Linked DNA regions of Homo sapiens: all the other regions are linked to region 1. The links come from fine-mapping of genetic effects on gene expression. A gene starts in region 1. Each other region holds a variant in brackets. All regions are shown on one strand. Distances are between the middles of the regions.

Region 1 (8,189 bases):
CACCTTTTATACTTTTTAAAAATGTGGCCATTAGAAAATTTAAATTAAATACCTAATTCACATTATATTTCTATTGGACCATGCTCAGATAGTGAAAAGAGTAAGGTAACTATCCCCTGAAAATTCTGGTTATTTCTAGGAAAATGGAATATCTCTGCATTTATAAGATTTTTTAAATGTATGGAAAAATGAAAAAATACAGACTGTGTAAAAGATATCAGATTGTGCTATAGTGGTTACTAGGTTTAAGAATAATTTGGAGGCTGAAAAAGAGAAAAAATGCTATCAGGTAGCAATTTTTAAATTGTATTCGTGTGGTTTGCAATCTGTAAATAGCAATGTATCTCTTCCAATTTAGTTAAAAAACAGGACAAGATTGAATTTTTCCCGTGAATTTCCTGTTTTCTATTAAATTTAGTAGGTAATGTTAAGAAAAATTTCCTTTGTAACAGCAAAGAAAGCCAGTGGAATTTACAGCCAAGTTGGTAGCATATCAAAGTAAAATACCTGACACATACTATGTACTTAATAAATAATAAATAATTCACTATTATTATTTATAATAACATTATTAGTATTCTTCAGTAACTAAGCTGCATTCTCTGGACTTCCAGAATCATCTATTCAATCACTCATTCACTCAGTCCGCAAAAATTTTTGATGATGATGGTGATTAGAGGAGGAATGAAATTAAGAAACTCTAAAAACAATTTATCTATTTTCAGGGGTGCTGGTGAGATTTGAAGGTGATTTAATAGTAACTCAAAATAGAACATTAACTCAGGAAAAAAAAACAGGAGCATATATCAAAACAACAATGTTACCTCTTTGCACATTCCAATCACCATTTATTTACTCTTGCAAATTAGATGAGACAAATTAAAACTAGATCCAACTTGAATGTCTAGCTAAGTGTCCTGTGTCTTTTTTTTTTTAAAGAATCTACATTTGAATATACCTCCTACAGAAATTCAAATACAAAATGAGCTCTAGAGAATACCACACATACATGCTGCACATTAAGCAGGAAGCGAGGAAGGTAGATCCGCCTGGGGCAGGAAAATGATATAATTTTCCTCATATTCAATGGTATGGCCCTTCCTCTTCATTCTCACAAGGATTTGACCTTTGTCACAAACACGGATGGTCCTGATCGTGTCACTCCGGAACATGGACGTTATCAAGGACAGCTGCCGGCACTCTTGGTAATAATTTCTCTTTAAATGTAAGTGATCTTTCCTTTGAACATTTTGAGTTGAGATGGATGTGTGTTCAATAAACTTATTATGGCCTCTTCAAAAATCTTTAATATTTTAGTTAACTATGATTGATAGATCTTTTTGTCACTTCTCTCTTCTATTATAGCCATTATTGTTTTTAAAGATGGATGTAGTATAGATGTCACTGAAACAGAGATTCATTTTCACTAACACTAAAAGAAAGCATGTTCTACGCTAATATGTAATCTCAAAAACAACACTGTTTCTTGTAGTAATTATGAACATTCCCAACTTCGCTTTGAGTAAAGAGATGAAATTTTAAAATATAAAGTATTTTCTCTTAAGCAAAAGTGTGCTAATTAATAATTTTACACACACACATATAGACTTATGGACACTTATGGTTCTATTGAGCACTGTTTGAATTTTAGGATGCAAAATAAATTAGATAAATTATCTAGTGAGCAAGAGACAAAATCCAGGTTCTTGTTCATGCACAGTCTTTTTACTGTAGGGTGAAATTTGTCTCAAAAGTGTGAGGTTCAAATTATTTATTTTTCAAAATTCTCACTAGTTTCCATTTTGCTGGTTATGGCCTAACCTTTTTAACTTTGAGTTATTTTCAAGAGAAAATTTGAAAAAGCAGCCTTTGAGGAGAAAGAAGCAATCCAACAAACAAAAAGATAACCACACTGTAATAGGAAATGTGTTTTGAATAGGACATTGGAAGAAAAATAATAATCATTTTTACAGGTAGATCCCAAAGTCAAGGATCTATGTTCAACCATGTGTGTTCCACCATCTTCACAATTGAATGAGTAACCATCATTAAGCAGTTAGCTTAGGCCGTAATATGATTCTTGGACTGAGATTTCAAAAATACCACAGGCCTTCTGAAAGGTTACCCCTTTCTAGCTCCACTATCATCTAATTTTATTAAAAAAAAAAAAAAGGAAAAATTTGAGCTTCTAGAGAGTAGGGGCTACCATTTTGTATCCCACAGGGCCAAGGAACAAGTTTTAATGTATTCATTTAAATTAATTTCAGTATGAGTATTGAAATATATAATAGAAATATTGTAACATTATATATTTTCTATATACTTTTATTATATAGAAAATATATATTACAGAATATATTATTAAATATTGTAGAACAATATATAATACAGAAAAATATATAATACTCAGTAATATATTAAATACTTATTAAAATAGCAAGCTTATATAGGAAGAGTGATGGAGCATTGTGAGAAAGTTTCAGCTTTATTTCTTTGACATTACTTTGTTTCTGCACAAACAAAAGAATTACAGGAATTGTCCAGATTATTCAAATAACTCGAAGTTGAGGAGGGAATATAAGTCAATGATGTAGAAACTCTTTTAAGATTTGAGCTAGCCTACAATCTGTAAAGATCTGTGAAATTGAACTATATTTGTGCTATTTCCATATTAAGTCAAGGCAACAAATCAATATTAATAATAATAACATAGCACTTCTAGAACTTTCTAAAGAGTCCAATAAAGTTTTGTTAGAAAGGATTGTTTTTGAAGTTAAAAACCATGAGAAATTCCAGGAAAATCCACATACCTATGCCATCATACTATCAATCAGGGCAAAACATGCTTGAGTCTTTCATCAAGACTAAATGATTAAGGAGTGGTACATAACTTTTCCCTGTTCTGACTAGCTGAACACTTCCTTTTACTCCACATTTGTTTAATTGGCATGAAATTTCCCACTCCACTAAAACAGATCTTAGGATTTGGACAACACAAAATATCATTTTTTTTGAAAGGATTTGAGGATAAATCCAAACTAATAGAACTGAAACTTCTATATTATGCTGGGTAGCAACTTAGTTTTCCCTACCCTTCTTCATGCTGGGAGATGAAAGAGATTCAGTTACGGCTTAAGCTCCACAGGCATACAAAGTGAAGCAGAAAACTGAGGCACGTGTGCCTCCATTATCTGGTATCTCATGTGGGGCTTAGAGGTAAATTGTCGTTATTTGGCCTCCATTTCTGCCTTTAACCACTGGTGTAAACAAAGGTTACTGTGCCAAAGTTGACAGCAACCCAAATCCCTTTGGCATGTGAATTAGTTTCCTCTGCCATACTGCTAGTTCCAAATTCCTTCTGGTTTCAGGATTTAGGAGTCAGGGTTGCCTCATCTTCTCAAATGAGTTACAGTCACGCACATCCCTACGCACTGCATGGTTGGCACTAGTTCCTTGATATATGTTACTCCGTTTGATCCTCATGAAGGATCAAATGGGGAAGGGAGATACTATTGTCTCTGATTGTCCATTAAGATCTTGAGTATGTTCTACTTCCCTGTTTGACACACTGGTTTGAAAATGTTGCTAAGTCTTCCCAACAATGACAGATACTCAGTGGAAACATGAAGGATTCCGTCAAACTGGTTATTTTGCATCATGTAGACCACTATTTCCCAACCTGCAAGTGCATCATGGCCTTTGGTGTGTCAGGGACACGCCTTGGGTGTGTGTCTCAGTCTAAAGCTTCCTCCTTTTCACAAGCTTCCTGTTTCTCATCTCTCTAGCTTCTAACTGTCACTGTAATCATCTCTTACTCTTCAGCCTGATGTCAAAAGCAAAAGTTCAGAAGTTCCTCATCAATAAGGAGTCCTTGTGAGCAGGTGAAGCTCATCTAACTAGGTAAGATGAAGATCTATCATAACCAGGAGGCAGGTTGGAAGGTGCCAGTTGCACTGGCAGTCAGGTGCAAGAGCTCTGCAGTGAGGCTGCCTGAGTGTCCATCCTAGATCTCTCACCTCTTGGCTCTGTGACCTTGAGCAGGTCTTAAATCTCTCTAAGCCTTTGTTTTTTTAATTGATAAAATGAGGATAATAATAGTACCAAAATTAGGGAGATTTTCAGAGCTTAAATAACATACGTGAACTATTTAGAGTAATGCCTGCCATAAGGGGACTCAGTAGCTTATTATTAGTTTCATACAATTTGAAAAGTTTCATAATATTTGCAGATATAAGATGATCTTCAACCAGATAGCTAATGTATGCAAAGCTATTTAGCTTCAGAAGTAAACTCTGCATTTCTAGAAGTTAAATATTACTTTGTTATAGTGAATTATCTGTAATATTTATCTCTTGCTCACTTTTATAAGAAAAATAGTGAAAGCATTTATTAAGAACTTACACTGCACTAAATGTTATATATGACTTAATCCTCACTATAACCCTATGAGATAGGTTACATTATTGTCCTAATTTTACTAACAAGGAAACCAAGAGACAAAGCTACTAAAACACTTGCCTGAGGTTAGACATCTTCTTCTGTGGTGAGGCTGGATTTCAAATTTAGACCATTTGACTGTAGCACTTATATGATGAGCACGCTGTTTAGTGTTATAGTGTTGGTCTACCTTTGAATAGACATACTTTTAAACCATGGCAAGGAAGTGAGACTGCACATTGAAATACGCAAAATTTGCCTTTGGGTGCCACGTGAGAAATAATCACATCACTAGAAACTAATCATAAGCTTTTGTGTTTGGTTAAAGTTTTATTGATCCATTTTTCTTGTTTACTTTGTGGGATACTGGGCTTAACTAGGGGATACCTCCACTTTTTACTTGGCCATGGTATGAAAACCTGTCCTCTGAATCTTTAGATATTTTGTCAAATTGTAGGCAAACAAAGACTTAAAGCAATTCAACCTTGATTAAAATAAGACCAAAAATGCCTCCATACTTGATTAAATTTATTTCATTTTAGGAACTGGATTATAATCAAGACAACTTCTACATGAAAAAATAGATTAATAGTGCTCCAAGTTAGTTCACTGTATTTATTCCTTTTTATACATTATCTGCCTTCGGTGTTATTCAAGTTTTCATTAATCATTAATAATTTCACTAATCATTTTATTTCATTAATCAACATTGATAGTTAAAATTAATCTGTGAATATTAAATGTTTTATGCCAGGCATTTCTATGATGTGGCTGCTTTTAACAACAACTTGTTTGATCTGTGGAACTTTAAATGCTGGTGGATTCCTTGATTTGGAAAATGAAGTGAATCCTGAGGTGTGGATGAATACTGTAAGTCATGGAAAACTGTGAAGAACATCAAATAAAGCAGGACTAATGGAGTATGAGGTTACGAAAGGTCCTGTTGTAACAGAAAATCTCTGATAAAACAGATAAAATGTAGATGGTTTTTAACCTCTGCAAGAGTCAAGCTAGTTAGATCTTTGTCTGAAAAACAAATACTGTCCGGTAATGAAAACCAAATTGTGCTATTGTGCTATCTATCTATCTATCTATCTATCTATCTATCTATCTATCTATGTATCTATCTATCTATTTATCTATCTATCTATCTATCTATAGATAGAACCTCCTCTTTTGAATTTATGTTTTAAGAATATCAAGCTATTTGTTGATGTACATGATTGCCTTCTATTGATCTATAGTTCTATTACTTTTAAAGCAAGAGGGGTCTCAAAAGACAATTGACTTGATAATATAGCTTTGTCAGAAAGAATGGGTCAATGCTAAATTTTCCCCCAACCCCCCAAAATATTAGCCAATAGTAGATATTTTTTAAAATTCTACTTATTTTGTATTAAGACTTTATTTATTAATTTTACAGTTACCTGGTGCTACAAATTTCAGATAATTCACCCTAATAAGCACACAACAGATGGTTTGTTTTGATTCCTTTTTATATCCTTTGGAGAAGTTCCACTAACGACTGTATTTTTACTGGGCAGAGTGAAATCATCATCTACAATGGCTACCCCAGTGAAGAGTATGAAGTCACCACTGAAGATGGGTATATACTCCTTGTCAACAGAATTCCTTATGGGCGAACACATGCTAGGAGCACAGGTACAAGATATGTCTCTCCTGAAAAGGGGACTGCATTGACCTCCTGCTTCTCAGGAGGAATTTAATGCTAGATATGCATCAACAGAGTTTATCAAAATTGGTTTGAATTATTGGATTAGTCTTTAAATAGTTATCAGGGAGGCTCACTCTTTGCCTGATAATTCTCTGAAGACAGACAGGAACCTAAAAATACAAACAGCAAGACTGATCTTGCTAACTGCAACCAGAGGTACTTGTTAGGGTGTAAACAGAAAGGCAGAGCCTGCATTTTGTCACCTCATTACTGATTTATCATGTGGAAAATTGCTTTGTCCCAGGAAAATGGATCCTCTCATTGTCAGAAGGAGATTTTCTAGGTTGTATGAAATTGACTCTGGGGCACCCAAGAAGAACCTCTCCTGCTCCCACTAAAATTAAGGGGCCTCCCTCTGCAGGATAAAAAACAATCTAGTTAAATGACAACGCATTTCTGAAAAGTTTTCCAGGACTGAAAACCTTAACATCCACATACACTTTGATCTAAGGGACAGACGGTTCATAGAATGAAAGAGTATGGTGTCAATAAGGCTTGAATTCTAGAATGAGGAGCCAGCCATGCCATAGCAGGGGAATGATACTCCTTAAAAGGGAAAATTTAACTACAAATCCTCTGAAGTAGAAATGATAAGAATAACCAAAATATCTGCAATGGTTCAATAGCAAATAATTTATTGGCAGCTGCTTACCGTGTTCATTTTGCATCTTTTTTCCCACCACACATATTAAGGAGCAGCTGAGGTCATGTTTGACATTCTCTCCCTCTTTTATCTCCAGTTTCAGAATGAAAAATGAGAGTGAGATATGAGTAGTTTTACTAGTTAAAATATGAAACACCCAGTTAAATTTGAAGGTCAGATAAACAACAAATAATTTTGTATAAGTCTCATTTTAAGATAATACTAAAAAGTCATTATTTATTCACTATTATCACTATTTATAAAATTTTGTAGAGCATCCTGGAACTTTTTGCTTACTTTTGTTTTTATTTTTTGCTAAATCTGGCAATCCCAGGCACATGTGTGAAGGAGCTGTGAAATATAAAAGGAGAAAACTTTTATGGGAAAGATTTGGCTTAAGGAGAGATAATTTTGGAAAGATTTAGAATTAAAGATCATTCATTAGATGTAATGTTCTAAATACTTTATATCAGTTAAACTTCTCATCAACAATATGAGATGGGTACCACTAATAGTCACCATTTCACAAATGATGAAATTAAGGCACAACCGGTTATGTTAAGAGGCCTAAAGTCCACAAATAGCAAGCTGACAGACCAGAATTTAAGCCCAGGCATGCTGGCTCCAGAGCCTGTGCTCTTAGTCATTAAATTATAGTGCCTTACTTGACCTTCCACCCTGGTTCTTTGGATCTCCCTGAATGCTCTCTCTCCCTCAGAAATCTGGAAGTTGGCAGAGGGACACTGAGCTGAGCATATTATTGTAGTTTTTAAATGCTCTCCACTGGACAGAGGATGGGGATTTGAATAGAAATTTGGTGAGGAACTAATCAGTGTCCATTTACACTCACCTCCTCTTCCTCCCTGGAAGAGCTATAGGACTTGAGTAAGCATGATAAATTTTGTGTCTTTGTAAACCACACCCAGGAAATTTGTATATACAAATACATAGAGCACAGTAGTTATCAGGACAGACTTTGACATAAAAAGAACTGGGTTTGAGTCCCTGCTCTGGCCTTCTTATCTGGGTGGCCCTCTGGGAAAGTTACTTAACTACATAAAGTTTTGTTTCCATATCTACAAAATGAGGTTTCTCAAAATAGCAGCTAGTTTATAGAGTTGTTGCAAGAATTTAGTAAGCTAATACATATAAATACGTCAACATAGCACCAGGTACAAAAATATGTGCTCAAGAAACTGAAGTTACCTGATTATAATGCTCTATACTATTGACAAGGGAAAAGTGAAAACAGTTTTTGTTTTACCATGTGTGTATGTGTGTGTGTCTGTGATGTTTCCGACATGCTCTATTTAACATAAATTACTCTCACTCTTTCTCTCTCTCTCTTTCTCTTTCTCCCTCTCTCATCTTACC
Region 2 (8,189 bases), 32 kb before region 1:
TAAGAAATAATTTTATACCCAGTGTTTATATACACGTCATTTTTCTTTTAGATAGATTCCTGAAAACAAAATTACTGAGTGAAGGTTATGAATACTTTTAAATTTACAAGACATGTTAACAAATTTTTTTCATAAAGGTTTTGCCAATGATTAACTCTACCATCAGAAAAAAGTACCAACCAATCTAGTAACTAGAGATACCAAATGTGCTTTGATTAATTTATTGGCCATTATATTTCTTTTCTACACATTATCTATTCCCTCTTTTGTCCAGTTATCTACTGGAAACTTGATTGATTGGTTTCTCTGTTCCTTTCCATTCATTCCCTCTTTTCTTCTTTCCTTGTGCCTTTTCTTTTCTTACTAAAAAGTCATTTTAGATTTTTCATGGAATGAATGTTGTATAATTCAGTATTCTACTGGTTAAAGCACAGCCTAGAAGTATGTTTCTGCTCTCTCTCATAGCAGTGTTATAAAAAGATTACACCAAATTTCACTTCGTAGAATTTATCTTTGATGACAAATATATTAAATTTCCTTTCCTAGGCAGATCCCAAATGTGGCAGCTTTTAGCAGCAGCATGCTGGATGCTTCTTCTTGGATCTATGTATGGTTATGACAAGAAAGGAAACAATGCAAACCCTGAAGCTAATATGAATATTGTAAGTCATTTATTCAGAAAAAAATGCTAAAATAAGGAATTATTCATATTTCAGCATTTTAGATACAACTGGTGTGCCTTCTTAGTTTTCAGCAATTCCTCCAGTGACTAAGTCTGTGCTTCCTCTCCTGTTTCTTGATATGGCTAACTAATCCAAGAATTAAAAGATCTGACCCAAGTTGGGGCAGTAATAGTCCATCTCCTGGTGGTTTGAACTACCATCCAGTGGTGGCTTCCTAAAGAGAAGTTTCATGACTTAATACAGATGATCTCTATAGAGTACCTTTGAGTTTTCCCCGAGATTTTTGATAGAGCAGTTTCTTTGATTTTGTGAGCTATCCCAATATGCTTTTTTGGTTTCATAAGCCAGTGTTGGTTTCTGTTGTTTATTACCAAAGTATTTTAACATTCAGGAATTCATATCAGAAGTGGAATGGAATAGTGTTAGGCAAAGAAAAAAAGGCCAAATGACAAATATCTACTACAGAATTCATTCAGATAATATACTCCATTCTCCTATATAAACGGCGCACAATTGCTGTCCTGTACCATACGCAAGTTGTATCAGAACCATAAAAAGAACGAAACTGCCAAAGTTTTTTTTCATTAGTATCTCTTCTTGTTCCTCTCTCCAAAGTATCCAGCAAGTACCCTTGATCTCCTACCAAACTGTTGAACTCACATAATTTTTCTCTCTCTAGCATGAGGGATTTTTAGCTTTTAATCCTTCTATAATGATAAGAACAATCATCTATAAAGCATTTATGTTAGGCATTATTCTACACATATTACATATAATCCTCACAATGTCACAGTCTGTCTCCAGAGCCTGGGCTCTTCACCATTGCTCTGTGTAGCCCACAATTTATACATGCATCTCTGTGTCTGACTTGGGAAAATGCATAATCCTTTGATTAAGGCATAAGCTTTGGAGTTAAACTTACTTTAGCATTAATCTTTTTATCTCTTCCTGGTATATAATCTTGGATAAATTGTTAATCTACCTGAACATAAGTTCTCTCAACTGTAAATGGTACAATTCCATCTCAAAGGCCTCTTATAAGTTTAATGAGAAAAGGAATGTAAACCTCTACGCAGAAGATACCAGTAATCACTAATTCCCCTCTTCTTTGTATATCTGCAGGTGGGGTATCTTTTCTGACCCCTCTAGGCTCACTCTCTGTTCTTTAACACCTTTCTCTCTGCCCAAGAGGCTGAACTGTAAGGACAGGTCAACAAGCTCCCTTGACTTTTGGTTTTCAGTTCAATTCAGCCAATGGAAATGGTGAGCAGGAGATGGAAAGAAATAGGCCAGTAAGGTTTCATTTTTTATTGCCCTGGCTTCCTCCCTGTGAAGTCAACTTAGACAAGCTGTCTTCCTCAATTTGGTTATCTCAGCTTAACTTTCTCCTTCGGGCTTCCAGTAACTGCTTCCTCCCCTCTTCTTTCAAGTCTGTTTGGTAATAGATCACTTGTTATTAGCCACAGGGTACTCCACAATTCCCTGTGGTTTCCCTCATTAGATGACCATATAATTTTCATCAAAGCAAACTAGGGTGCTTTAATAATACCAGGCCAGCAGGCAAAACCAGAGTGTCCTGAGCAAACAAGAATGTAGGGTCACCCCACCCAGACTTACCTATGCCTCTTTATGTAACTCCTAGAAATCCCTCTTAAATTATCCTCATAGGAATATTACATGCCGTCACGGCACATAGAGTGATAAACAGTAGGTGCAATTTAAAGTACTACATTGTGGCCAGGCAGGGAGGCTCACACCTATAATCCTAGCACTTTGGGAGGCTAAGGCAGGGGAACGAATGCCTTGAGCTGAGGAGTTTAAGACCAGCCTGGGCAACATGGTGAAACCCCATCTCTACAAAAACATACAAAAAATGTAGCTGGCCATTGGGACAGGTGCCTTTAGTTCCAGCTACTTGGAAGACTGAGGTGGGAGGATAGCTTGAGCCGAGGAGGCGAAGGCTGCAGTGAGCCAAGATCACACCACTGCACTCCAGCCCAGGGAACACAGTGAGACCCGTCTCAAACAAACAAACAAACAGACAAATAAAGTACTATGTTGTAATTCATGTGTAAAAATTAAGAGATTATAACATGAAGGTATATATTTCCTTTCCTCTTTTTAGAGCCAGATTATTTCTTACTGGGGTTATCCTTATGAAGAGTATGATGTTACAACAAAAGATGGTTATATCCTTGGAATTTATAGGATTCCACATGGAAGAGGATGCCCAGGGAGGACAGGTATTATTTATTTTGTTATGAAAGGAAAAATACTTAAAGCAGAGGTACTTAGATGTCCTGGGAGAAGTCAAGCAGTTTTTGTTCTGAAATTCTTAACAGTCCTTTCCATTAAAGGAGAAAAATTATCGCCCCCCATCTCTCTGTTTAATTTGTGTAACTTTGAAGTTTTAAGTCACTTTTACATACACTGTTTATCTGGTCACTCCTTTTCTTCATGACTTTGTCTTCCTACCAAGCAAACACAAAAACACATCGTGTTCTTACCCTAGTGATACCTCTGTCCCGTTTTGAAAATCAGAAATCTAGGGGTTATTCTTGATACCAACTCTCCCTCACCTTCTACATGCAACCTATCATCGCCATCTATCAATTTTGCCTTCTAAATTTCTCCCTAATCTGACAACTTTCAGCTTCAATAATCTTTCAAATCCAGGTTTGGATATAATGTCTTCAACTACTACAATGCCTCCTCACTGGTATTAAACTATTTGTAGTCAGTTCTGGACCCAAGTCTGTGTGATTTCATGGTTTAAAGTAAATATTACCCTATTAGCTCCCACCTAGCAACAGCATCTCAGCTTGTCAAATCACCATCTAGTTTAGCCTACCTACCTTCACTCCAGCCTCCACCATGTCCATCAGGGTGACCCAGAACTCCGCCTTCAGCAGCTGTTGGTACAGGAGCATACCCAGTGCTTGTATCAGAACCTCAAGCTTCTTCCAGGTAGGTAGCAGCTTTCTGGGTGGCCTGGGCACCAGCATGGGTCTGGGTGAGGTCTATGCTGGGGCTGGTGATATGGGAGGCATCACAATTTTCACTGTGACCCAGAGTCTGCTGAGCTCCCTAAA[A/G]GTGGAGGTGGATCCCAACATCCATGCTGTGAACACCCAGGAGAAGAAGCAGATCAAGACCCTGAACAAGTTTGCCTCCTTCATTGACAAAGTGTGGTTCCTGGAGCAGCAGAACAAGATGCTGGAGACCATGTGGAGCCTGCAGCAGCAGAAGACAGCTGGGAGAACGTGGACAACATGGAGAGCTGCATCAACAACTTTCTGCGGCAGCTGGACACATGGGACCAGAAGCTGAAGGTGGAGGTGGAGCTTGACAACATGCAGGGGCTGGTGGAGGACTTCAAGAGTAAGTACCAGGATGAGATCAACAAGCATATAGAGATGGAGAATGAATTTTCCTCATCAAGAAGGATGTGGTTAAAGCTTACATGAACAACGTAGAATAAGTAGTCTCGCCTAAAAGGGCTGCCCCAGGAGAAGAGAAGATCCGTGAGCTGCAGTCCCAGATCTCGGCCACATCTCTGGTCCTATCCTTGGACAACAGCCGAGTCCTGGACATGGATGGCATCATCTCGACGTCTCCGCCCAGTACCAGGAGATCGCCAGCCGCAGCTGGGCCAAGGCCGAGAGCATGCACCACCAGGTCGAGTATGAGGTGCTGCAGGCCTTGGCTGGGAAGGCTGAGAATGAGCTGTGTCGCAGGAAGAGGATCTTCCAGGTGAACCGAAACATCAGCCGGCTCCACCATGAGACTGAAGGCCTCAAAGGCCAGAGAACGCAGAGCAGCGTGGGGAGTCCGCCATTAAGGACTCAACGCTGAGCCTGCAGAGCTGGAGGCCGCCCTATAGCGGACCAAACAGGAGAGGGCGCCGTAGCTTCACCGGAACCTGGAGCTGATGAATGTCAAGCTGGCCTTGGGCATCGAGAGCGCCACCTACAGGAAGCTGCTGGAGGGCGAGGAGAGCCCGCTGGAGTCTGGGACGCAGAGCAGGTGTATGCATAGGAAGACAAGCAGTGGCTACCCAGGTGGGCTGGGCTCGGCCTCACAAGCTCTGCCCTCAGCTATGGCCTGGACTTCTTCCAGTCCAGCTTTGACTGTGGCGGGGACTCCGGCTCTTTCAGCCGCACCAGCTCCTGCAGGGCCATAGTTGTGAAGAAGATTGACCCCTGCAATGGGAAGCTGGTATCCGAGTCCTCTGATGTCCTGCCCAAGTGAATGTCCACGGCAGCACTTCTTAGCTTACCCTTCCTGTGGCTGTCCCACATCCTGCTGGGGAGGCAGCTGTGCAGGGGAGCATGGGCAACTGGAGACCCATCTGACGCTCAGCCCTAGTTCTCAGCCCACCCTACAGGGATAGTTTGCTGCCTAGGGTACACCTCTTGCCCTTGCCTCCAGCTGAAAAAACAAGTCTATTTTTTTTTTCTGAAACAGAGCCTCAGGTATCCTCAGGAATCTCTGCAAAAAAGACCCTATTAGTTCCTATCAGTTCTGTGCTTAAACTTCATTAAAGAGCCAATTCTAGCTCCCCGCAATGCAGGTGGCTATCTGTTGGGGGGGGGGGGCGGGGGAAGAGCAATTCATTTCCCAGAAACTATTTGCTCTTGCTTTCTTCTCTCTCTTCTTAGTTCATTTTATACTTTGACATGTCGAATAACAAAACTTCTCAATATCAGAAAGACTATTTATTTAAAGAAAAACTCTAGATTTCTAAAAAGAGAGGAAGATATAATGGTGTTGCTGGCTTTACAGAGCCAATTATTTCCCAAAATAACTCCATAATTACAAATAACTTTGTAAATACTCAAGAGAACTTTTAAGTCTCTCCAAACTTTTCTCTTGTCATTTCTATCACGTAGCTGCCAAAATTCATGAGACAAAAAGCTGTACAATGAGAAACTCTTTTTCTAATCTGAGATCCCTGTGATTTGTCTCAGACTCAGATCAAAGAGGCCTGATGGTACTTGACTATTTAATGGTACTTAACTTTGGCAGAGTTAGTAACACCTCTTCTTTCCCTCTATTCCAAATGGTGGAAAAATGGACATAGACTCTTAGTTCCTTGGTCCCGATGGCTGAAGGCTCTCTGAGAGTACAACTTACTCACTCTCAGGAAGCCACTCTAGTTCCAAAAGTGACCTGAGGTAGAGTCCTGAGATAACAACACAGCATCACAAACCACTTATAAAGCACAGGAAAAGTCTAGTCACTTCTTCCCTCTCTTCTCTCTTTTTCCACACTTTCTCACTTCTTTCTTTTTCCTTTCTCTTTTTTAGTTGAAATGTTCCTATTTTACATTGGGAATAGGATTTTTGTATCATATTAACAATTTTAAACTGTAAATTTCTACTTACAACCTTGTTTTTTGCTTTCTAACAATTCAAATGAAATGAAGCAGTGCCTATAAAACTTAGCATAGTGCTTGACATTCAATGAGCATTCAACAAATGGCATTTTAATTATTGTTTTTATTATTTTGAAAAAAATTTAAGTTTTTAATCAGATGAATCTTGAAAAATATAATGCTATTAATATAAGTAACAGTAATAGAGCTAATATATATTTACTGTGCCAGACAGCTTTTTTTTGTTTTGTTTTATTTTGTTTTGAGACGGAGTCTTGCTCTGTCGCCCAGGCTGGAGTGCAGTGTGGCGATCTCGGCTCACTGCAAGCTCCGCCTCCCGGGTTCACGCCATTTTCCTGCCTCAGCCTCCCGAGTAGCTGGGACTACAACGCCCGCCACCATGCCCGGCTAGTTTTTTTGTATTTTTTAGTAGAGATGGGGTTTCACTGTGTTAGCCAGGATGGCCTCGATCTCCTGACCTCGTGATCTGCCCGCCTCAGCTCCCAAAGTGCTGAGATTATAGGCGTGAGCCACCGCGCCTGGCAACCAGACAGCCTTTTACATGTTTTAGTTCTCATCGAATTCTTATAAATACCCTAGGAGATAGCATTTATTATTATTTCCCATTATACAGATAGGTTAACTGAGGCACAAAGGAGTTCATGCGTATCGAAGGGATTTTGAACTAGGGCAAACTAACTTCCACACTTACATAATACAATACATTGTATATAATCCCTTACAAATGAGAAAACAAGACAGAGAACTTAAATAACTTACCCAAGTAAGTAGCTCAGAAGGGACTAGATCCCAGGTTTGCCTGGCATCAAATTTTATCTCTTAACCTTTCTTTTATACTACAGAAATTCAGGAATGAGATTTTTCTTGTAGACACTGAGAAAGTTCAAATATGAAATTCTTGTTGCCTGTGTTTTGCAGCTCCAAAGCCTGCTGTGTATTTGCAGCATGGCTTAATTGCATCTGCCAGTAACTGGATTTGCAACCTGCCCAACAACAGTTTGGCTTTCCTTCTGGCAGATAGTGGTTATGACGTGTGGTTGGGGAACAGCCGAGGAAACACTTGGTCCAGAAAACACCTTAAATTGTCACCGAAATCACCGGAATACTGGGCCTTCAGGTAAAGAGAAACCTATTAATGAATAAAATGTGTACTTTCCTCATGCATATGTATGAACACCTAGTGATTTTTTTCCTGTTTTGTGTCCAAATGCACCCAATGGAATCCACAAGAAGGAAACAAACCTTTCTTTCTCTACCCAAACTTTCTTCACAGGCTCTAAAGAACTGCCATTATTATTGCATGGCTGTTTTAGAACTCCTGCCTCCGTCCTGGTGTCTGCGTGTGAGTGAGTGTGTGTGTGTATGTTCTGGGGGAAGTAAGAAGAAAGCCTGATTACAGAATAGCTAAGCAACAGTGCTGCCAGCAGCAGCGCCTGAGGGTGCTGTCTACTTCAGAAGCCACGCCTACCCGGTCACAGGAGCAAACTGATGCACTGGCATAGGAGCTAAGAACCATGCCTTGGAGGTCATGAAAATCCTGTGTTCCTTGGCCTCGTTGCCTGCCTTCTTTCTGGAAACCACTGGGATTTCCTAATTCTATGCCATAGTCCATTGCACCCTTGCAAATGACTAGAAAATTCCCTAGGTAAGTATTTCTTAAACTATACATAGGATCAGAAGTAACTGAGGTCATTGTTAAATATGCAGATTACTGGGTCTCTTCCCAGGAAATTCTGATTCAGTCAGTCTGGGCTGAGGTCTGCAAATCTGTTTGCTTTATTATTCTCTCCTTTAGATAAGCATTCCAGGTAATTGCTCTTTTCAGAGGAGCTTGGTAAATCTGTTATAGAATTAAGTGAATACGACTAGCCTTGCAAGAAAAGCATCAGTAGGCCTCGACAAATCAAATTTTTCTGATTTCAGTTTCTTAAAAATGTTGACTTGCAATCAAGGTGACACCCTTAAAAGTTGCATAGTTGCCTAATATCATATATCGACACTAGTCTTATATTTAACAAAATCAAAGTATTTATGTCTTCACTGAACGTGTTTAAATGTTCTAGGCCTAACAATGAGATGACTTTTCTAATTTGTTATTCCTTCTTTTTGAT
Region 3 (8,189 bases), 51 kb after region 1:
CAGTGGCGCGATCTTGGCTCACTGTAACCTCCGCCTCCCAGATTCAAGCAATTCCTCTTCCTCAGCCTCCCAAGTAGCTAGGACTATAGGCATGCACCACCACGCCCGGCTAATTTTTTTTATTATTATTTTAGTAGAGATGGTGTTTCACCATGTTGGCCAGGATGGTCTCGATCTCCTGACCTTGTGATCCACCCACCTCAACCTCCCAAAGTGCTGGGATTACAGGTGTGAGCCACTGTGCCCGGCCTATACATTTTTTTAAGGTTAAGTATACAATGGTGTCTCACACACATACATGCACACATATACACTGCATTCCATAATATTCGGTTAATTGAGTTTTAATTATAGTGGTAGTTAATGCTTATTGAGTTCCTACTATGTGCTGGGAATTACAGTTAGTGTTATATGTGCATTATCTTTTTGCATTTATTGCAACAGTCCCATGGAGTATGAACCATTAGAATTCCTAATTTACAGATGCATGAACTGAAGCATAGGAGCAGTTTAACTAAATTTCTCAAGATTATACAGCTAGTTTATGTAATAGTGTTAGAACCAGTGTTAAAACTCAAACAGTGGGACCCAGGAGCTTTCTCCTAATGACTATGCTTTGTTTTTGCCCTATATTCTACCTGGGCATGTGATGTTTGGCCTTCTCTCTTGCTCTTTTTTAAAGCAGCCCCTGATGCAAATGGTTCTCTCCTTCTCTCTGAGTGATAACAATGGGCAAGAATAGTGAGGATGCTTAGAAGATATTTGCAGCTACAAATTTTCCAGAGAATGTCTACATGTAACTACTGTATAGAGTAAGGATTCTTAACCAGGGGTTCGTATGTAGGCAACAAGATATCTGAAACTCCTGAAATTGAATGCAAAACCATGTTTTTGTATCCATTGTATATCCATTTTTATAGTTCTCCTCAAATTCACAGAGGGAACTTTAACCTGAAAATGTTAGGAATCAATGCTCTTGAGTCTGTGGTTTTAGAACTGGAAAGAACCTTAGGAAATGCATGGCCCAGGAATGCTCATAAGTTGTCCTGGAACAGGTGCCCCACTGGCTGCTTTAGAACCATCTTATCTGTAACCTGAAGTGGGCTCAAGACTCTGTATGTTTCAATGCCCAGAAGATTCTGATGCACAACGAGGTTTTGGAATCAATGTTCTGATCCAGTGGTTCTCAAACATTAGGGTACATCAAAATTCCCTAAAGAGCTTGAGACACAAACTGCTGGGCCCAGTCCTCTGAGTTCCTGATTCAGTAGGTTTGGTTGGAATTTGCATATCTAACAGATTAGTCCAAGTGATGCTGATGCCTTTGTCCCAAGGCCCATACTTTGAGAACCATAATTCTATTCCGGTTTCCATATTAAGACAAAGAAAGTAAGGACTAGAGAGGGTTAGCAGATTTTTCTAAGGTAACATGATTAGCTAGGGAAAAGCAAGGACTTTCACTGTGTTTTACAGCATCAAGGAATCTACTCTTACTTTTGGATCATTGAGAATATGGCCACAGAGAACTGAACCTAAAAGAAATTGTGCTTTTTCCATAGAGTGAAATCATCCAACATCAAGGCTATCCCTGTGAGGAATATGAAGTCGCAACTGAAGATGGGTATATCCTTTCTGTTAACAGGATTCCTCGAGGCCTAGTGCAACCTAAGAAGACAGGTGTGGGTCACCCCATGTCACCGCAACACAGCAGTCTTCTCTGCAGTCACGATTTCCTTGTGATTTGAATGTAGAAGAGAGCCTGGGTTCTTAGTGCAGAGTGAGGTCCATTGTTCAGGTCAAAGGATGGTGTCAGTTCCCCCATAGTCTCCATCACCACCACCGTGTCCGTCCCCACTGCCACCAATTATCTCAATTAAACATACAGTGTTTGCTTTTCAAAACACTCCTTCAAGAAAAGTTCATTTCTTGACTTATTTTAGCGCTTAACCCATTCCCCAAAACTCCTCCTATGTAGACATTCTAAAATATTTACTGACAATTCCTTGAACAGACCATATCAGCCTCTGATTATGAAGAATTCAAGCTTCTTTATGGCACCTGGTACCCGCTCCTGTATACTCTGTATTCCTCATCTAAAGAGCACTTAAAATATTTAAGATGTTGCCTAGCTTTTTACTAAGGGCTTTTGAAAAACGAAAGTTCTATACATACATTTTATTTTATTTTATTTTATTTTATTTTATTTTATTTTATTTTATTTTATTTTATTTTTGAGGTGGAGTTTTGCACTTGTTGCCCAGGCTGGAGTGCAGTGGTAGGATCTCAGCTCACCGCAACCTCCGCCTCCTGGGTTCAAGCAATTCTCCTGCTTCAGCCTCCCAAGTAGCTGGGATTACAGGCATACACCACCACACCTGGCTAATTTTTGTATTTTTGGTAGAGACAGAGTTTCTCCATGTTGGTCAGGCTGGTCTTGAACTCCCGACCTCAGGTGATCCACCCGCCTCCACCTCCCAAAGTGCTGGGATTACAGGCATGAGCCACCGCGCCTGGCTATACATACATTTTAAATGTTTGATACATGTCTCCATAGTTCATACAATTCCACCCTTTTGTATGTGGGATTTTCAGCTATTGTTATTTTTTAAACATTTGTTTTCATTACTAAAATATGCCTATTTTTCATTTCTATTTGGCTGGATTCTTTTTAATACTCTAGCAGTAGGTTTATAGTAGCAACTATATTGTCTTTCTTGTGTATAGGTAATATAATTTCTTGTGTTATTTTGATATGCCAGATACACTGATAAGTGCTTTATTTGTATTAGTCTCATTTAATTTTCACAATTACCCTAAGAAACTGCTACTCACATATGTTAAGCAACTTGCCCAAAACGTCTGTGCTAGTGCTTGCTAGTGAGTTGTAAAACCTGCACTCAAATCAAATCTGTCTCTCTGCCATTATAGCCCGTGTTCTTAACTAGGACCAGAAAATGCTGGACAAATGCTATTGGGCTTTGGTGTAAAGAAACGTTGGGGTTCTGTTTTACTCCAATTTGTACTTGTGTAGCTTTTTGAAACCACCTTTTTTTTTCTCACTAGCTGCACAGCTGCGCCTTATACATGTCTAGCGTGCACCTGCCTTAGTGTCTTTGAACTTAAATTTCTCCCTCTGGACCACTGTTTCATCAGATGTCTATGCAGCTTGCCTTGGCCCTTCTTTCAGCCAACTTTATCAGAGTTCTTCCCTGGCCACCCTATTCAAAGTTGCAGCTCTTTGCTACCTATTGAGTTCTAGCCCCTTACCCTGCTTACTTTTCCATATAGCACTTACCATCACCTGATATAATAGATATTTGCATGTTTGTCTATTGTCTGTCTCCCCCCAGTCAGAGTGTAAACTCAGTGAGAGCAGAGACATCATTTGTTTTGCTCAAGGCTAGAACCAGTAACTAAATGAGTGCTGAGCACATTCTGGTGCTAATAAATATTTGCGGGATGAATTATAGATTTTGTATAAATAAATGAATAGCCTGGGGACACAGCCCCACGAATCTCAGGGGAGTGGTAAAAGCACAGTTCTTCCAAGCAGTCGAGTGACTTAGCAATTACTAAGCATGGGGGTCACCTGCAGCCCCTATTCTATGGATGGAATTTGTTTTCTTACATCCTGTTGATTCAGACTGTTCACACATTGCCCAGGTGTTTGAGGTTCAAGGAATCTGCCTCCTTGTTCCAGTCCGTGCAGAATACTTCCCTCTAGTGGCCAATGTTGTTGGCATGTGCCTCTTCAGAGGCAATCTCCCATAT[C/CA]AAAAAAAAAAAAAAAATTCACCAACCAAGAAAGCCAGTGAAATTCTTATTGAAAACAACTGAAAAATGTTTACTGTAAAGCTTATAGCTTGTGGTAGCGGCCTTTTTATCTTTATCAAAGAATCTTAGTTGGCTTCAATATCAAGAGAGAAAATAGGCTGGGCCATCCTCAGAAATGACAGCTGTGTAAGTGTAGCCCTTACACACTTACCTGCTGGGTGTAAATTAAATAGAAGACCTAGGGGATGTTTGAAATGATATAAATGAGCCATTCCTCTTGTTAGGGGAATCACAAGAACAAACTATATGACTAAGTAGAACCAAGGTGACCTTAACCATGGGAAATGCCCGGACTCTCAAGGGGAGCATTGATCACCTTGGTTTGATTGTCCTGTGTTAACACAGCTGAGGTCACCTCCCTGAGAACTAAGAGGATGAACTAAATGACCAGATTAGATTTTCAAGGAAAATCTAAAATAACACTGAGTTCCTTCCTCCTGGCCCTTCACTCACAGTCCACAGTGACCCACACGTTCTCTCCCTTGAGAGACAAAATGAGGCAGATGGAATTCATGAAGACTGTCAAGATGCTGGATGAGTTTGGTGTAGAAGGCTTTTGTCCTACAGGGAGACTGCATGTGTGTTTGGTGCCCGTTTATAGCAATAACAACAAGAGCTACCCATCTGATCTGAGGTCGGGCAGCATGCTGAGTGCTTAATGCACAGTACCGCATTTAACCCTCCCCTGCCAAAACCCTGTGAGGTGGGCAATTGTCCTCATTTTGCTAATGAGAACACTGAAGCTCAGAAAGTCACTTGCTTTAGAGAATTATAACAATAATAATGAAAGCAATAAGGCTGTTTTTTACTGCAGGCTTCTTCTGAGCCAATACTGAGGTGTGGATATTGCATTCATGATTTGATTTAATTCTCACAAGTCCTGTTGAGGGCATGACATATTTTTTACTCCTAATAGGGCAGCACCTTATTAATCTTTCAGCCAAATTTGCTAATGTCAAAATAATATATATGCCTTAATTTATTGAACATATTAGAATTCTTAAAACCCTTCATCCTTCTCTATTCTCTACTGATATTCTTATAATTCTTTATTTTGATATAATTTCCAATTTATGGAAAAGTCCTGGGAATAGTACAAGGGACTTCCATATGCCCTTTGCCCTGATTTACCAACTGTTTACAGTTTTACCCCATTTATTTTATCATTATCTCTCCCCCATCTCTTACGTGTATCTTAATACTTTTTCCAAAACCTTTGATGGTAAATTTGAGACATACATCATGCCTATTTGCCCCTAAGTACTTCAGTGAGTATTTTCTAAGAACAAGAGTATTCTCTTCTATAACTGCAATACCTTTATCAAAGTTAGAAAACAAACATTGATTGACATTAGTGTTTAATTCGTAGTCTATATCCAAATTTTGTCAATTGTCCCAAAGTCCTTTACAGCTGTTTTCCCTCCTCTGGTCCATAATCTAATCCAGGATCATTTACTATACATTTGGCCACCAAGTCTGTCTCCTTCATAAACAAACAATTCCTAAGGTTTTGTCTTTTTGATTTTTGCATTTTTGAAGAGTTTTGGACAGGGATTTAATTTGCTTTATCTGATGTTTCTTCATGGTGTGATTCAAGTTATATGTTTTTGGCAGGAATAACCCAAAAGTGAAGTTATATCTTTCTTGGTTCATCATATTATGAAGCAAATAATGTTGGCTTGTTCCAATACTGATAATAACTTTAATGACTTCATTAAGGTGGTATCTGCCAGGTTTTTCTAAAGTTAGTATTTTTCCTTTTGTAATTAACAAATAAGTTATGGGAAGATAATTTCAGGATATGTAGTATTCTGTCTTTAAATTTTACTCACTAATTTTAACATTCACTGATAATTTCAATCTTTCTGAATTTGTTAGTGGGTATTGTACTGTAAATCAATGTTTTGTATTTACTAATTGGCATTCTGTAAATAAGAGCTTTTCCTTCCAATTATTTATTTGTTCATTTATTTATTGGTCTCTATATGGACTTGAACATTCTTAATTTATTCAATGGGATATAATTATTTACTATAATTATTTTGATGCTCAATATTTCTGTATTTGAACAGTGGGAGCTCCTTCAAGCTGGCTTGTGGGTCCTTTTGACATGAAGGTCTCTTAATCACTAAACCATTATATATATGTGGTATACATATACCTTAATAATCATACTATACCATCTACTGGGGCACTTTCAATATTTCTGAAGAGCCCAGACAAGTCTGATAATAATTACACAAAACAAAGAACAGAAGTTAAACTTTATAGATTCTTTTTCTGCCGGGCAACATGCCATCCATTTCTTGTGCTCTATTTTATTAAAGCATAACAAAAATCTTATTTTACTGATGAGGAAATCAAGGCACACACCAAAGGTCAAGTAATTGGCCAAGATAACTAAGCTAGCAAGCAGCTGAATCAAGATCTGAACACAGGTTTGTTTGATTTGAAAGCTCTTATTCATTACTGGACAACAAGAAAGGGAGAGAACATTTCATACAGTTGAAATTTTCTCTTTTTGCAGGTTCCAGGCCTGTGGTGTTACTGCAGCATGGCCTAGTTGGAGGTGCTAGCAACTGGATTTCCAACCTGCCCAACAATAGCCTGGGCTTCATTCTGGCAGATGCTGGTTTTGACGTGTGGATGGGGAACAGCAGGGGAAACGCCTGGTCTCGAAAACACAAGACACTCTCCATAGACCAAGATGAGTTCTGGGCTTTCAGGTATATGATAATCTCGAGAACAGAGGTAGACATGTCTGTCTTTCAAAAAAAATGGGTAAAAAATTACGGCTTCTAGTATTTGGTTGATTTATTTTGGTTGAGTCATCATTATCTTAACATGATATCCCCCAGTTTTCTTAATTAACTAGTGATTCCTTGGTTGAAGTAGTGAGGAATGCTGAGTTCCCCATGTAGAAGGTGGGTCTAGCTAATAGGGTGAGAATGGTGGTTGGTGTCAGGTGACTAAGATTGGAATGAGAGAAGTGTAGATCAATTTCCTCATGGGGAGGGGCGGGTAATAGTATAATAGTACTCCAGAAGGAAAAGAGACCAGGCAGCATTAAAAAAAAAGAAAGGAAACTATTAAGCCTAGTGTGTTAGTCCGTTTTCACACTGCTGTAAAGAACTGCCCGAGACTAAGTAATTTATAAAGTAAAGGGTTTTAATTTACTCACAGTTCAGCGGGGCTGGGGAGGCCTCAGGAAACTTACAATCATGGCAGAAGGTGAAGGGGAAGCAAGGCACCCTTTTCACAAGGCTGCAGCAAGAAGTGCTGAGCAAAAGGGGGAAGAGCCCTTTATAAAACAATCAGATCTTATGAGAACTCACTATCACGAGAACAGCACAGGGGAAACCACTCCCATGATTCAACTACCTCCACCTGGTCTCTCCCTTGACACATGGGGATTACAGGGATTATGGGGATTACAATTCAAGATGAGATTTGAGTGGGAACACAAGGCCTAACCATATCACCTAGGGACCATCGATTTGACTTACCTCTCATGTTCTTACAAAAGATTTTTAACTCTTTTATTTAAATTACCTATTGATGTTCAACTCACTTTTTATGGCTATCAGAGACGGACCACTTCAGCATCTTTACAACTATTCCTGTAAATGAATCTGCAGAGCCCTGTGCGGTTCTGCTTAACAGTAGAACAGGACACTTCCACTAGCAGTTGCGTTATGTGCTCAGTAAATATTCACTGAAGATAGTTATTGCTACGTGATAACATCTAGAGAAAACAGCAGTTTGCTGACAGCCTGTGACTCCAGAGGCACCCATGCTTCATAGGTTTGAAAGAAATCCATTCTGAGTGTTGTGAGGGACACGGTAACAAGCTGTCAGAGTTGACAACTCAAGGGCTTGTTTGTAAACCTGGTGTCGGGGGGAGCTTTTGTTTGTTTCTGATTATAATTTTTCATATAACTTTGTCTTTTCCCCTTGTAGTTATGATGAGATGGCTAGGTTTGACCTTCCTGCAGTGATAAACTTTATTTTGCAGAAAACGGGCCAGGAAAAGATCTATTATGTCGGCTATTCACAGGGCACCACCATGGGTAGGTTCAAAGAAAAGCAGGTTTGTATACTCGGAAGAAATGTGAGCATACGACACTAGCTATCCCTGAAATCTGTCACCTTGTGCTTCCTTCAGACCTGCTCTTTTCATCTTCAGAATCATGTAGTCCCCAGCAATGTGTCTAGCATATAGACATATGTGCTAGATATAGCATATCTCTGTGCTATATGTGTCTAGATATAGCATATCTCTCAATATAAATATTTTCTCAAAGCCAACATCGTGTTATTCAATTATTTATTTAACTCATTGAGCACCTACTACTTGA

What was found.
Region 2: its variant is fine-mapped to the expression of LIPN in sun-exposed skin (GTEx, PIP 0.99).
Region 3: its variant is fine-mapped to the expression of LIPN in memory regulatory T cells (Schmiedel 2018, PIP 0.95).

What each region holds. Positions count from the first base shown.
Region 1 is chr10:88,756,207-88,764,395 of GRCh38, forward strand. LIPN (lipase family member N) reads left to right here and starts at 3,814. Exons shown (of 10, transcript NM_001102469.2): 1 at 3,814-3,900; 2 at 5,192-5,307; 3 at 5,982-6,099. The coding sequence starts at 5,200. RefSeq lists an enhancer at 2,969-4,168.
Region 2 is chr10:88,723,987-88,732,175 of GRCh38, forward strand. It overlaps LIPK (lipase family member K), which reads left to right. Exons shown (of 10, transcript NM_001080518.2): 2 at 547-662; 3 at 2,809-2,926; 4 at 6,997-7,195. The coding sequence starts at 558. It also overlaps the pseudogene KRT8P38. Among named protein-coding and RNA genes, the nearest start is that of LIPK, 22 kb to the left of the region's middle. The variant A/G (reference allele first, on the strand shown) is at 3,776.
Region 3 is chr10:88,806,739-88,814,927 of GRCh38, forward strand. LIPM (lipase family member M) reads left to right here. Exons shown (of 9, transcript NM_001128215.1): 2 at 1,560-1,677; 3 at 6,359-6,557; 4 at 7,792-7,901. Among named protein-coding and RNA genes, the nearest start is that of LIPM, 8.1 kb to the left of the region's middle. The variant C/CA (reference allele first, on the strand shown) is at 3,772.